4 linked regions of the Homo sapiens genome follow. The protein of the gene in region 4 purifies or fractionates together with the protein of the main gene of each other region. This does not show direct contact. Each region holds a gene or a part of one and is shown on either strand. Other genes may lie near its edges.

Region 1 (3,500 bases), on a different chromosome or scaffold from region 4:
GCTGGGATTACAGGCACACACCAACACACTCAGCTAATTTTTGTATTTTTAGTAGGGATGGGGTTTCACCATGTTGGCCAGGCTGGTCTTGAACTCCTGACCTCAGGTGATTCACCCACCTCAGCCTCCCAAAGTGCTGGGATTACAGGTGTGAGCCACCACACCCTGCCTCCTTCTTAAGAAGTTTCCAGTCCCTTGTAATTAAAGGAATTAATATTTTTTAACTACTTAGAATCAGACTGGCCCTGATTATTAGTAAGCAACTAATAGTAAGCAAGCAACTATGTATGCAACTATGAGTGTATGTTAAGATATGGTTGTTGGTAACCTTTCATTCTCTTCAGGAAGAAGAAGAGGGTGGAGCTCTACAGTCAATGTGTACATTTAAATTCTGTTCCCTTTCGAGCTTTTTTGCTACTTTCATTCTTCTGGGGATCCAGGTGCTTGAGTTGGGATTGATTAACTTCCTTAATTTCCACCCCTGTGCTGTCAGGATCGGGAGACATAGATGAAGGTGTTCTAAACTGCTAGAAATTTTGTTTTTGAAAGCAAAAGTTTGCATGCATTTTTGTTTTCAACTTTTACTTACAGTGAATAGTAGTTAATAAAATAAGTCCCTGCCTTTTCTCTCTTTGGTTTCAATTCCTGAGACCAGGATCATAGCCCACATATTAGAGTGGAGTCCCACTGCTTTGGTTTGAATCATGCCTTTGTTTCTTATGTCAGTGTGACTTTGGGCAAGTTATTTAAGTCTTTGCACCACATTTTCCTCATCTGTAAAATGAGGATAATACTAGTACTTTCTACATGGGATTGTTAGCAGGATTAAATGAGATAGCACATACTGTAACCATGTCTGGCACATAGTCAATGGTTAGTAAATGTGAACTATTGTGTGACATTGTGGTTAGTCACGTATGGGGCTGTGTTTCCTTTAGTATATTGCTCTTTTAATGTCATTTCCTTTGTACTGTTACCCTCTCTGATCTTTCTTCCATATTCATTTTTCTTTCAGTGAGGTCTGCCAGTCTTTAGTGAAACACAGCTCTGGAATAAAAGGAAGTTTACCACTACAAAAACTACATCTGGTTTCACGAAGCATTTATCATTCACATCATCCTACCTTAAAGCTTCAACGACCCCAATTAAGGACATCCTTTCAGCAGTTCTCTTCTCTGACAAACCTTCCTTTACGTAAACTGAAATTCTCTCCAATTAAATATGGCTACCAGCCTCGCAGGAATTTTTGGCCAGCAAGATTAGCTACGAGACTCTTAAAACTTCGCTATCTCATACTAGGATCGGCTGTTGGGGGTGGCTACACAGCCAAAAAGGTGAACTTGACATTCCTCCTGGTTTTCCAATTATTATATCATGATTAAGTTTCTATAGCATAAATCATTTTTGTGTAGTGGAATACAATTGGATGTTTAAACATTTATTTTGTGTCTCTACCATGGACTAGATTGTTTTAATGATGCTAATAGGAAGATGCCTTTAGAATCTTAGTTATAATTACAGGAAATTAAAATGGCCTAGTGGAAGGAGCACAGGGCTGGGAATAGGAACACCTAGGTTTGATTTTGAGCTTAGACATTTAGTAGCACAGATGTGAAAGTCAGGTGGCATTCTCACACAAGCACTTCTTGGCAGGTCTGGGACCAGAGGCAAGGCGTCCTGTCTCCCAGTCTGTCTTCCTTCTACCCCACAGTAATATTTAGGGCAAAATTATGAAACCTGTTTGAAATAGGAGTATATTCTGAATTTTTACATTTTCCATATTTAACAGAGGAGTGTTAACTTGTTTTATATGCTTGTTTGCTGAGACCACTTAATTTTGTTTCTTAAAAGTTTTGAACATAATACATTATTCTTAGTAGATTAATGTGTTTTAATTAAATAATTTTTCTTTACATGTTTATTTGGCATGCAGAGCATCTGATTGACACACTTTCTTGTCTTTTAGACTTTTGATCAGTGGAAAGATATGATACCGGACCTTAGTGAATATAAATGGATTGTGCCTGACATTGTGTGGGAAATTGATGAGTATATCGATTTTGGTTTGTATCATGAACATTAAAATACTTTTTTTGGTCATCTCGAGGAAAGAGAAATAGTTTATTGAGATAGTTTCTTAACTTATGAACCTAATATATCACGGTTTTATTTTAATGATATAAGTAATAGAATATCAATGAAAAAATCTGTATAAAAGAAATACCCAGTAGCCCATAATTTTACCACAGCTGCCACTAACTGTTTGGAGCATTTTCTTTTAATTATACTTACTATATGTGGTTAGTATCTTTTTAACTTATCGATTGAGACAGGATCTTGCTCTGTCACTCAGGCTGAAGTGCGGTCTTGGAATCATAACTCACTGCAGCCCTGAACTGGCTAAAGTAGTCCTTCCGACTCTGCCTCCCAAGTAGCCGGGACTACATGTGTGTGCCACCATGCCCGACTGATTTTTTAATTTCTTGTAGAGATGAAGTCTCACTATGTTGCCCAGGCTAGTCTCAAATTCCTTAGCTCAAACCTCTCACCTCAGCCTCTCAAAGCACTGAGATTACAAGTGTGAGCCACTATGCCTGGCTTGAGTTTTTTTCTTTTAATTTTTTTCTTTTCATGAATACTACCACAGAATAGTATTTTAGTTCCCTTTTTAAAAATTATGTAATCATGGTGAATATTCACTTTGGTATTTTGTCTTTTGCTACCTAACATATTTTGTCAGCATTTCCATGCTGCCAAGTAGCCTTTCTATTAATAATATCATTTTCTGCATTATGTAATGTTGCCCAGAGCATATTTATTGTGACCCACCTAGCTAGCTCCTTTTGATTGGATACCTTGGTTATCTCTACCTTTTGTAGCCAAGTTCTTTAAAAGTCTGTTAGTATCCAGGGTAATTTCTTTTCTTAGTTGGCCACTGCCCTCCCTTTTTCAATAGGTGGATGAGAAAAAAGTATATTGGATCGCTATGATTGCCAGTAATTCATGGTGATCTTTAAGAAATATATTTTCATCAAATTTTTTTAAAACCTTTGTCAGATTTCTTAGTTTAGGTGTATGTGGAGGTGGAATTAATCTATACTTGCACTTATTCACAGAATTTATAAAGATAAAACTGTTCTATGTTGACGAATCCATTTGCAAAAAAAGCACACTTTCAAATTGTTCTTCTAATATTAATGAGGAGAGCTTTCAAATTGATGTATTTGCCAGTACCACAGCGTAGTGGCTGAGAGCCTGTATTCTGGAGCTGGACTGCCTGGGCTGGAACCCGGGCTCCTCCACTTCCTTGCTGTGTACCTTAGTTTCTCATCTGTAAATGGTGTTGATAATAGTAGCTGTTTTGTAGGGTTGTCATGAGGATTAAACAAGTTAATACTTTAGCCCTTTATAAGAATAGTATCTGACATATTTTCTTAGTTTCATACTCTATATGTTTTGATCTTTTCCAGAGAAAATTAGAAAAGCCCTTCCTAGTTCAG
Region 2 (3,500 bases), on a different chromosome or scaffold from region 4:
TTGCATTTAGGGGCTGTGAAATTGGAACCAGGCCCTGAACTAATTGAATTTCACGCTCCACCATTGTCTTACGCCGGGAGCACCTTCTGTCCCACCAGTCACCCGGGGGCCGCCTGGCCGAGGTGTGGCTGGGCTCAAGCACACACATACTCGCTCACACACACACACACACACACACAGCCCCCTGCCACGTCTGTCAGGCGGACCCCGCGCCCCGACCCTGTACCCCAGACCCACACGCAGCCATCTGATTGATGGGGGTGACACGGTGCCCGCTCCAGCAGGCGAGGTGTCGGCAGCGTCCCTGAATCCGAGGAGCTGGGTCCGGGGTGGCAGGAGGGAAGGGGTTGGGTGGGGGCAGTGGGTGGGTTCGGGGTTGACTTTGAATAGCAAGGGGCACTTTCTCGAGCGGTGTGAAATGAGCAATAAATGTATTGGGGCTAACAAGAGAGCTGAAACAGTGACAAAGAAAAGCTGTTCAAAGTTGGCGGCTAATCCCCCACCCATCTGCCCGGCTCATTACCATGGAGCGAGCCATCGGGTGCCAATCAGGCCTCAATAGCGGCTTTCGAGGCTTTATTAGCCAGGCGCCGCTTGGAGGGGCTTCACTCAAGGCGCTGTCAGCCTCGCCATTCTTAACCCCCATTTCCAGGGGTTTTATAACTTGGTTGTAAATTGCTATTAAATGTAAGTCTGCCCAATAATGAACCTTAAGCCCCTCTCACCACCCCCCGCCTCTCCTCTCTCCCTTTCTCTCCCTCCCCGGTCCTATTATCGGCCTTCGCTGGGGCCTTAGATGGGGCCTGCCCGGGAGAAGAGGTGACATTGTTGGTGCTGCTGCTGGAGAAAGCCTCTTAGCCTTTAAAATAGTTAATAATTAGATTAAAACTTCAAATAAATTAACTAGAGAGTGAATGGGCACTAGCCAGGGGAGGGTTCCTCCGGTCTTTTTTTCTTCTTCCAGACAGTCCCCAAATCATGACAATAGGTCACGTTTCTTCTCCAGCTCAGCCTGCGGAGCTGCCCTGGTCCTCGGGCAGGGCTGCCAGAGCCTGGTGCCCAGGACCCTCCGCAGCCTGCCACCCGCCTCCCACCCTCACGGCTCTCCAGGCTCCTGGGAGCCCTGTGCAGGGAGCCAGGAGGTGCTGCTGGGGCCACTCCCACCATCTTCTCAGAGATGATCCTAAAGGGAGGCTCTGTGCCTGCAAACAGGCCTGGGGGCCCGGCTGCCTTTGGGGTCCTCTTTGGCCCCCCAGTAGGTTGGGACAGATGAAGGGGAGCAAGGAAGACAGTCGCTGGCTTGGCCAAGCTCTTGGGAAAGGCCCAGAAGAGGCAGATTATTAAAGCACTTAGCCTCCGACACCCCATTCCACATACCATGCCGGGCACCTGTGAGCATCATGCCTGTGGTCCGTTTTTTGATGAGTGCACCCAAGGCCCAGCATGGTGAAGCTGGCTGTCAAGGTCACACCAGCAAGGGGGAGAGGGGGATCTGCAGCTCTGCCTCCCCACCGGCCTGAGGCTTCCCCACCCTATCCTCCTTTCTGTGGTAGCCGGGGTAAGAGCCGAGCGCCAGAGCCGGGCCAGGCCTCTCCACGAGCCTCTCTCCCTCTCATCCCAGCTCCAGTGTGGGCAGCCACTTTGTGGACGAATGGGCCAGCCCCCCGCCTGGTCCTTGGGTGCCCCTGTGCCCAGCACCACCTCCTCCAGGAAGCCTCCCTGATCACTCCAGCCTCCTGAAAAGGTACCCCTTCAGGCCCTCTGAGCCCGCCCTCTGAGCCCTCCCTCTGAGCCCAGGCGGGCATGCCTCGCTTCTCCATCCTTCCTCCAGGCCAAGAGATGCCCTCTCCCAAGCTCAGGCACCCAGGCACTCAGGCCAGGTCAGCAAACGCTTCTTGTTGACAGCAGTGAGAAGGAGGGAGCGATCAGGACAGCCTCCACTGCCGAGGGGAGCAAGAGTGGCCGCAGCTTTGAACGTGGGGTCAGCAGGGTGAGGCCCAGAGCGGCTCAATGAAGACTGGCGAAGGCTTTCCATGTGGGGTCCCAGGGGTCCATGAGGCCAGCTCGCCAACACTCACCGTTTACTGAGCACCTTCCGGGGTCAGGGCCCAGGGCTGGACGCTCCCTTGCAGGCCTCATTCTACCCCAGGAAAACAGCAGGCACTCTTTCATCCTCAGATACAGCTGAGGAAACTGAGGCCCAGGAAAGTTGAGTGGCTGTTCAGGGACTAGAGCGCTCTCATTCCAGACCTGGTGCCCATGAACCCGAGTGATGGGTAGCCGAGGGCATGTTCCTCCCAAGCCTAGAGGCATCCATGGTCCATGGGTTGTACTGTCCAGGGAGGTGGGCTGTGCGTTACCTTGAAGCCCCTGCCTGAACTCTAGCTTCCAGGAATGCAGGGCGGGGGTAAAGAGGGCCTAGGTTCCCAGGCAGGGAGGGGAAAGGAGCCAGGGCCCCAAAAGTCAACCCCCTTCGAGTCCCAACAGGTGGGCACATACCTTTTTTGAACTCGATCTCGAGAATGTCAGGGGTGTTGGGGGCTTTGGCTGGGTCCTGGGTCTTCGTGTAGAGACCTGGAGGCGCTTGGTTCTGAAAAAAGACAGAAAGTGGTGGGCAGATGACATACCAGTCCCTGGACACCCTACAGCCCACCTCCCGCGGGGATCTGCACCCCTCTCCTCTGTCCATTTCCCCACCAGCTGGTGGGGTCCGGCAGATCCCCCGGTCCCCAGCCCTCAGCCTAGCACCAGCCTCGCTTGCCAGAGGCCTGGGAAACAAAGGGCTGGAGAAATCAGACAATTTTTCCCCTCAACTTGATCTCATCTTTTTCTTCGACGCCCCCACAGCTGGAGGTAGAATAGCTGGAGAGGAACAAGTCAGGCAGGAAAAAGTGTGACTTTGGAGGAGCAAGGCGGCGTTCCGAGGGCTTCCCAGGAGCGGCACGCACGCTCTCGCCGGCTCGGGATTGGGGTTTATTCTGCACTGACCGCAAAGCTAATGACTGCCTGTGACCCCAGCAGGTGCTCTGGCAAGCCGAGCCGTCCCCAGGGTCCCCAAGGTTAATACTCACAGGGAGAAAAGAGAAGAGCAAAGCAAAAACCCATTTGAAAACACATCAACCTTTATGTATATTTTTTCTTGGGCGTGTTGGAAAATGGGCCTCTCGTCTGATGCAGTGGTGGAGGGGCTGCGTGTTGCCTGAAACTCTCGAAATTCCCTCCCACCTTCGGAGGCCCCAGCTCCCCCAGGCCGTGGCTTGGACATTTGCCACTGTGGGGACTGGGGCCTCTTGGGCCTGACTGCTCAGGTCCCTCCTGTGGGCATCCTGTGCCTGGGGTCCTTGTTCACCTGCTGACATCCAGGAACTGCTGTCTCATCTTTGCTTTAAAAACCTTGCAGACGGCTGGGCACAGTGGCTCACACCTGTAATCCTAGCACTTTGGGAGGCTGAGGTGGGTGGACTGCCTGAGCTCAGGAGTTCGACACCAGCCTGGGCAAC
Region 3 (3,500 bases), on a different chromosome or scaffold from region 4:
AACAAATGACAGCTGGTGGGGTCAGGCCCATTGTGTTTAATATGAGTAATAAATAGGCCACACATATTTGCAGGAGTTCTCGTCATCCACGAAGCTGCATGAGGGAGCTCAGTAGGCTCTTCCTGGGCTGTCTAGTATGGTAGCTACTAGCCACATGGGGCTCTTTCCATTTACATTTATTAAAGTTTAATTTTAATAAAAATCAAGTAAAAACAGCTCTTTGGTTGTGCTAGCATATTGCAGAAATTCTGCTGGACACTTCTTCAGATCTACACCAGCGTATCCCAACTGGTGTCACCTAAAATACTCAGCTTCACTGGTATTGCTAAGGACTTCTCTCCCTCTTTGAGGTTGACAAGGCCTGATGGGCGATCAAAGCCTATAGGTGAGACATCACAATGAAATAAATGTCTTGACTCAGGGTTTCTCACACTCCCTCAGGTAGGTAACCCCTTTTTGAGCCTGTAAACACCCATGTAGCAGCCTTTGGAAAAGAGACCGCTGCCAGAGATATCTTACACTGCATCCTAAGTGAATTCACGCAGGACTCACCGTGTGTTTCGGTTCATGGTAAACATACCATCTACATAGAGGAAGAAACGGTGCCCACGCATCCTCTGTGTTACTCCTGCTAGATGTGGTTCCTGGGTTGCTCTGGTTTTCTGAAGGTCTTCTAAGACGTTGTTTTTTTCCTTGCAGTTGAATCTGGTATCAAGTGTCACTCTCTCCAAGTCCGCATCGGAGGCTTCTCCACAGAGCTTACCTCATACTCCAACGACCCCAACCGCCCCCCTGACTCCCGTCACCCAAGGCCCCTCTGTCATCACAACCACCAGCATGCACACGGTGGGACCCATCCGCAGGCGGTACTCAGACAAATACAACGTGCCCATTTCGTCAGGTAGATACTCCACCTTTTGCCTCACGTAGAGTTGTAATCTGCAATTCTTGTAGACCAGCCCCTTTTGAAAAAGTGATAATTAATAGGACAATGATTCTTATTCAGCAGATATTGCGCAGAACCAAGAATTTTATAAGAACGCAGAAGTTAGACCACCATTTACATATGCATCTTTAATTAGGCAGGTAAGTAAATAACACAGTATATGAAATTCTGTCAGAAGGTATATGTGTACATGGATATATATTGATGAAGTAGATTTAAAAACCGTTTAGTATGCAAGCATGCTGAAACCTTTTCTATAAGGTTTTTTAAAACTGCAATATATAACATAATTGCTTTTGATTAAGTATTACAATACGATGTGATTATTAGGAAATTCATTTCACACAACAGTGAAAATGAGCCTGTTTAAAGATGGCAAGTCAATTATCACAAGCTACAGTAATCTCTGATCCCTAGAATTAATCTGAGCTCTAAATAATTACTGAGCTTTAATCAGCTAGTGAAATGTTTTGCATTTCTCTTTGATTCTGCTTTATGAATGACTAATAAATTAATATTTCTGTACGGAAACAGAAATAAAAACTCAAAACAATTAGATAATTCCATTTTGAATTTTGCTATTGAACTGTTAAATACAACCATTAATCTTAGATCATTTTGTAAAACCTTTCTCAGGATTTAGCTCTGAATCACAGTGATTTTATATTTTCGAGAAACTGTGGAATGACGACTCTGCTGATTTGGTCATAAATTATCTTCTGTTACATTCTGCTTCACAGGCCATTCTCGAATCTCCAGAAAAGCAGCTAACACTAAATGAGATCTATAACTGGTTCACACGAATGTTTGCTTACTTCCGACGCAACGCGGCCACGTGGAAGGTAAGCTTTCTCAGGCCTGTTTATTCTTGGATCTTGACGTTCATAGAACAGTTTGTTGTTGATAAAATGCAGTTGTGCTATAAGGAAGCTACATTTATATTGTTTTGATACTCTTAAAGTGTCCAATCTCTAGGTGTATTTGATTGGGAAAATAGTGCCATTGTGGTTGAAATGCTCTGATGGAAGACTCCCATTATACCAGCATCAGCAGTGTGGAGGGGCCAGCCAGTAAAGTGATCTCTCTCTGGTTGGAATATGTAGAGAAAAGGAGACAACACCGTCGCCCAGAAGTGGAGGTTGCCATATTACTTGCACAAACCTCATGCCGTTAGGTCTTCAGCCACAGCCGATATTTGCAGAGATGTATCTCCAGCGATCTATCTCCAGAGATGGAACCTGGAGAAATGACCAAACTTGACACAGCCTTCAATGGTTGGATAAATAGCTCATTAACCCAATTAGTAGAGAAAGCTGTGCAATCCAAGCACTAGCACTGTTTGTAGGAGTTATTAATGGAGAACACAATGTATTATTAAGGGGCAGGGGTTTTTGTTTTTCTTTTTTTGGTTTTAAGTCAAGAGATTGTCGGCCAGGCACAGTGGCTCATGCCTATAATCCCAGCACTTTGGGAGGCTAAGGCAAGAGGATCACTTGAGCTCAGGAGTTAGAGACCAGCCTGGGCAACGTAGCGAGACCCTGTCTCTACAAAAAAAATTCAATGAATTAGCCAGGCATGGTGGCATGCACCTGTGGTCAACAGCTACTCCAGAGGCAGAGGTGGGACGATTGCTTGAGGCAAGGAGGTTGAGGCTGCAGTGAGCCCTGTTCATGCCACTGCACTCCAGCCTGGGCAACAGAGCAAGACCCTGTCTCAAAAAAAAAAAAAAAAAAGGAGATTGTCCCTCATAGATATACTAAGGAAGAAAAGTAGATTTCGAACTTCATTATATTCATTATAATACTATTTGCTGTAAAAACAAGTCAAATTGCATAGCTCTTTATTGGATGCCCCCAGTAGTGCTTGGGGTCATATATGGCTTACCTCATTCCCAGGTCAGCAGCTGGCTCAAAGATTCCACTGGTATTTACTCCCTTATATTAGATTGATCCCTCACATATTTTTGGGCTTTCCCATTTTTGATTTCTTGGTGTCTAATATTCTTGCTTATAGAAGGGGACAGGTACACTCTGTCATTTGTATTTTTGCATTTTTTACTACCTGGAATTCTTGTAATCCCTGAAATCCAAAACATTTAGAGACATGTGATAACAAACATTTGAGGCTATTTTTACATGCCATTAATCTAAATATGATAAGGATGTGTTATAGGACACAAGGAAAACTTCCTTCGCCTGAAATAAATGCCTTCCTTGCTAATTCCTTAATTTTATACCGGAGAAAAACCAAAGCAAAAGACAGAAAAATACATTTCCTCTGTTAAGTTCCTGATAAATTAGCATTTTAAAAGAAAACGAATATAACCATAGAATTAATTCATCAACTTTACAGAGCTGTGAATATCCATTATGGCCCAAATTATCCTTTCATTTCCATTAAGACACATGGGCACTGAAGGGAACCTATGTTCAAAATCTTACCCTCTTTGCCTCAGCCTGCCTTGGAAGATAAAATATGAAAGGATCTTTAGCCATGAATGCTTTAAAAAATTTAGGAAGTCGAAGCATGAGGCAGACATTTTCTTCAGATTGCC
Region 4 (3,968 bases):
ACTTCCATTCAAAATAGGTGAATTTTGAGCATAATACATAGATAGAAAGAATGCTTACTGTATCTTAAATCTGCGATGCAGACTAGGGATAGAAATTCACTTTACTAATAATTCCTCCCCCCACCCTCCCCCCAAAAATTAAATTAACTCAAAATCAAAATTGATAGCTCATTTTTACTGAAAAAAAAAACAAAAAAACAAAATGATATTCCTACGAGGATTAGCCATTACCATAATTTAGCCAGATAACATTAAGCTGCTTCATTTAAAAAATGTAACATTACCAAAAGATTAAGAAAATGCAGCATTCCTCAGTGACTTAAGGTTTGTGGGTTTTTAAGAGATGCACAGATGTAAAAGCAGATGCAAAGACGAGTTTTGTAAAACCTGCCCCATCTTAAAAATGGAGTATTATAATCTTTGCGATAATTTTTTCAAATATCAAGGAAGACATGTAAATTCACTGAAGACTTCTATCAAGTATTTGTAAACCTAAAAATTAATTTCAAATTAGTAAATCTTGGAGTTTACTTCCAGCTCCATTCACTTTGGCCAAGAATTGAATGAAAGTAACCCAAATCACTCCTTGAAAATTAACACACGTTCAGTGTGAAAATGAATACACTAATACACTGTTAAATCTCCATTAGATGTATTAAACCTCAGTACCCTTGCTTATTTCAACAGCCTTGAGCGGTTATCAACATCTTATATTAAACCACAAGAGATTTATACACAAAAGTTAGGAAATACACTACATACCAAAAAAAGCGCCATTATAATCATGTCCTGCTTTCACCTCACAAAAGACACTCATTCTAAGCTCGCTGAAACTTCCTAGTCATTAGAGAAGTTCTGATGAAGTAACATTAGTAATCATAACTATCTCAAAACAGTTACAAAAGCCTCATAAAATCAACACACTACATAAATTTCAAAGGCTTGGTGGGTCCGGTGCGACTGCTTTAACTGCCCCACACACATATTCACACAACGAACCTGTATCAGTTTAGGAGAAAGTGTTACAGAAAATATAGCTCCTTTAAAGTAACTTCCAATCACAATACTGAAGTGATAAATCCACTTCTGAAAAGCAATTTTTAAAGATTCCTAAAATACTCATTTTGACAACCCACAAAATTAAGGTTTTTAAGCTATTAAACAAAATATGTCCCAATATAAACACAACTTTCATAGGCCAAGTTCCATCCCACAGTAAATATGTGGACAAAAATCAAAACTCTTCAGTGTACTCCAATAATAATTTTTAATTAAACGAGAGGCATACCATAAGAATTAAAAAAAGCCTACTAAACTTCTGGTTTTAGGGAATTACAGGCTTTACACTTCTGCAAAGATGTGTTTTAGTAAATGCAAGACGAAGCACTGACCAACTATCATCACACATCAGAATCCTTCCAACAAAAAACCCAGGACTGAATTTAAGGAAAACAAAATAAACGACAGAGGGGGAAAAAATAATGTCTTGCCACGGTACCGCAGCGGCTGGATAGCCTGCTTGTGAAATGCTAATGCCACTTCGGAGCAGTTAGTCACCAGCTATTGTGTAGGGCAGGAGAAAGCCGAGCCGGCCGCGCGTGCAGAGCGAGCAAGCGAACGAGCGAGCGCGCTCTCCCTCTTCGCGCCGCTCCCGCCGCCGCCGACTCTCGCGCGCCCCCGCGCCCGCACGGACGCGCGCGCCGGCCCCTCCTCCTCCGGCCTTGCACTGCACAACACTCATGACGTATCTTTATTTCTAGCACATTAACAAAATATCACAAATAAATTGTCCGCAGCCCCTGCGGCCCCGAAGTACGAGTACCCCCGGCCACTGGCCCCCGCAGACCCCGCGCCGGCCTCCCAACCCTCCCCATGGCCTTTGGAGCTTTCACGTTCTAGGGCCAAGTTTTTGTCTCTGTAAAAAATTGCGGGAAATTCAATTTTTATTCGACTCAGGGAAAAGTTTCTTTGCTCTGCGACGTGAATGTCTCACCAGATTCTGGTAGGTCCTGGGATGCTCCTTCCCGGTCCAGTCGGTGCGCCGGGGCAGCAGCTGCGGGGAGAGGACACCCCGTGAGCCCGGCCCCCGGCCCCTACCCGCCCGCTCCCCTCCCCCGCCCGCCCCGCGCCCCGGCGGGGACCCCGAGCCCCGCGCCCCGCGCCCTGCCGGCGGCGGCAGCGGCGGCGCAGCGGCCCAGAGGCGGCCGCGCGGCGGCGGGACGCGCCGGGCCGCCGCCGCCCTTACCTCCTTCTCGGCCACCTCGCGGATCAGCACCTGCAACAACAAAGCGGGGAGAGCTGAGCCCCGCGCCCCGGGCCGCGGCCCCGCCGCCGCCGCCTCCCTCCCCCACGCCCGCGAGCGGCGAGCGCCGGCCCGGCCCGCGCCGCGCGCCGCCGTACCTGAGCCGCCTGCTGACAGGGTCCATCTTCCAGGAACCGGGCGATGAGGAAGTAGAGCTCTGCGCGGGAGAGAGGGACGGGGAGACACACAGGCTGAGCGGTCGGGCGGCGGGGGGCGGGGGACCGCGGGCGGAATCGCCCGGTGCCAGCGGCCCCGGCAGCCCCCCGACTTACCCGATCGCAGCTCCGAGAGGCCTTTCCTCTCACAAGACATGTTTATGGGTCACTTCAGGGCCGCCGACGGGACACCCCGCCGCCGAGGGGAAGCGGGGACGGTGCCGCCGCCTGCCCTATAGCTGTCAGTGTGTGTTCACGAGCCGAGCTTCGGCTCCACCATTCAAGCAACGGCGGCGGAGGCGGAGGAGGAGGAGGAGGAAACAACAACTCTCAGGCAGCGACTACGGCCGTGGCCGCCTCCGCCGCGGATCCCTCCGCCGCAGAAAGGAGTCCGCCGCCTTCGCGGCCCAGGGCTCGGCCCCGGCTCTGGCCCGCGCCCCCGCCCCCCGGCGCTAAAAAAGGAGTGCCTCCGACCCCTCGTCCCCAGCGCTCCGCACGCGGCACAGTGAGACCCCCACCCGCTCCTCCCCGCAGGGCGTGCGATTTATTTATTTATTTCCAGTCGGAGAAGATGTCGGAGCCCAAGCCGCCGGTTGGCTGGAAGGCGCTTTCTCTGTGGAGGCCGATAGTGGCAGGGAGGGGGCCGGGGACGGTTCCGCGGAGGGATCTGACGCACACGGAGCCGCAGCACAGGCTCTATTCAGCGGCGCTGGCTGGAGCTGAGATGGAAGTTAGTTTCTATGTAGCAGAAATATGAAACAAATGAAGCAAAACTGCCCAGAGAGGGGAAATGCCCCAAGGATGGGTCTCACTCACGCGCGTACACAGACACACACGCAGAGAGCACTCTCACGCTGGGCAAGCTCGGGATCGCGCTACCCTTCCCGAGTTGAATGATAGTGTTTGGTTTCTGTCTCTTGCCATGTGCATGTGTATAAATGCTGCGGATTGGCATCTGTGTAAGTCTTGTCCTGCGTTATTTCTGCAGCCTATGCAAGTGTTGTGTAATTTATTGGAGTGCTGTATATTGCAATAGAGGTTTGGGCTGCTTTTTGTTAAGCACTTGCGTTTTGCAAACCCGTTATTTGCTGAAGCCACCTCTGCATATTTCTTTTATTACTGCCATTGCCTTTGGCGTACGTTTTTTAAATGTTTTTTATTGTTAAACGGGCAAAGCGAACTCTTGATTTGTACTTCAGATACTCTTTTTCCTTATTACAAAAAGGCTAGTGATGGCTAATTAGGTATTTGGAATTAAAGAACCTTAAAGCTTTTTTAAGTGTTTACGAGAAGGGAGAATGTAAACCTGAGGGAAAGGAAAGGACGCTAATATTCATGTCTAACTGATCTGGAGGTAATTTAGTGACAGATCGATAACCTGCCTAAGGATATTGAAAGAGTATACTACAGTTTAGCCAAGGTGAATAGTGATTAAATAATTTAAATAATCTGTGTATCTTGCAGTTGACTTCGTCATGCTAATTAATGGCTTCTAATTTGAGATGTAAACC

Evidence for each region. Proteins that work in one complex are often made in the same cells at the same time.
Region 1: the proteins of PHIP (region 4) and OPA1 purify together in Homo sapiens (affinity purification with mass spectrometry, with the first as the bait; one large-scale study listed by BioGRID). This does not show direct contact.
Region 2: the proteins of PHIP (region 4) and ASS1 purify together in Homo sapiens (affinity purification with mass spectrometry, with the first as the bait; one large-scale study listed by BioGRID). This does not show direct contact.
Region 3: the proteins of PHIP (region 4) and FOXP1 purify together in Homo sapiens (affinity purification with mass spectrometry, with the first as the bait; one large-scale study listed by BioGRID). This does not show direct contact.

The regions. Positions count from the first base shown.
Region 1 is NC_000003.12:193,613,708-193,617,207, forward strand, and holds part of OPA1 (dynamin-like GTPase OPA1, mitochondrial), read left to right. Parts: intron 1-1,015; coding exon 1,016-1,334; intron 1,335-1,966; coding exon 1,967-2,063; intron 2,064-3,470; coding exon 3,471-3,500. UniProt on the Homo sapiens protein: Dynamin-related GTPase that is essential for normal mitochondrial morphology by mediating fusion of the mitochondrial inner membranes, regulating cristae morphology and maintaining respiratory chain function.
Region 2 is NC_000009.12:130,475,961-130,479,460, reverse strand, and holds part of ASS1 (argininosuccinate synthase), read right to left. Parts: intron 2,591-3,500; coding exon 2,500-2,590; intron 1-2,499. UniProt on the Homo sapiens protein: One of the enzymes of the urea cycle, the metabolic pathway transforming neurotoxic amonia produced by protein catabolism into inocuous urea in the liver of ureotelic animals.
Region 3 is NC_000003.12:70,975,229-70,978,728, reverse strand, and holds part of FOXP1 (forkhead box protein P1), read left to right. Parts: intron 1-699; coding exon 700-901; intron 902-1,006; coding exon 1,007-1,086; intron 1,087-1,686; coding exon 1,687-1,788; intron 1,789-3,500. UniProt on the Homo sapiens protein: Transcriptional repressor. Can act with CTBP1 to synergistically repress transcription but CTPBP1 is not essential. Plays an important role in the specification and differentiation of lung epithelium.
Region 4 is NC_000006.12:79,075,455-79,079,422, forward strand, and holds the start of PHIP (PH-interacting protein), read right to left. Parts: upstream 2,801-3,968; 5' UTR 2,615-2,800; coding exon 2,575-2,614; intron 2,460-2,574; coding exon 2,401-2,459; intron 2,276-2,400; coding exon 2,246-2,275; intron 2,054-2,245; coding exon 1,994-2,053; intron 1,813-1,993; exon of another isoform or gene 1-1,812.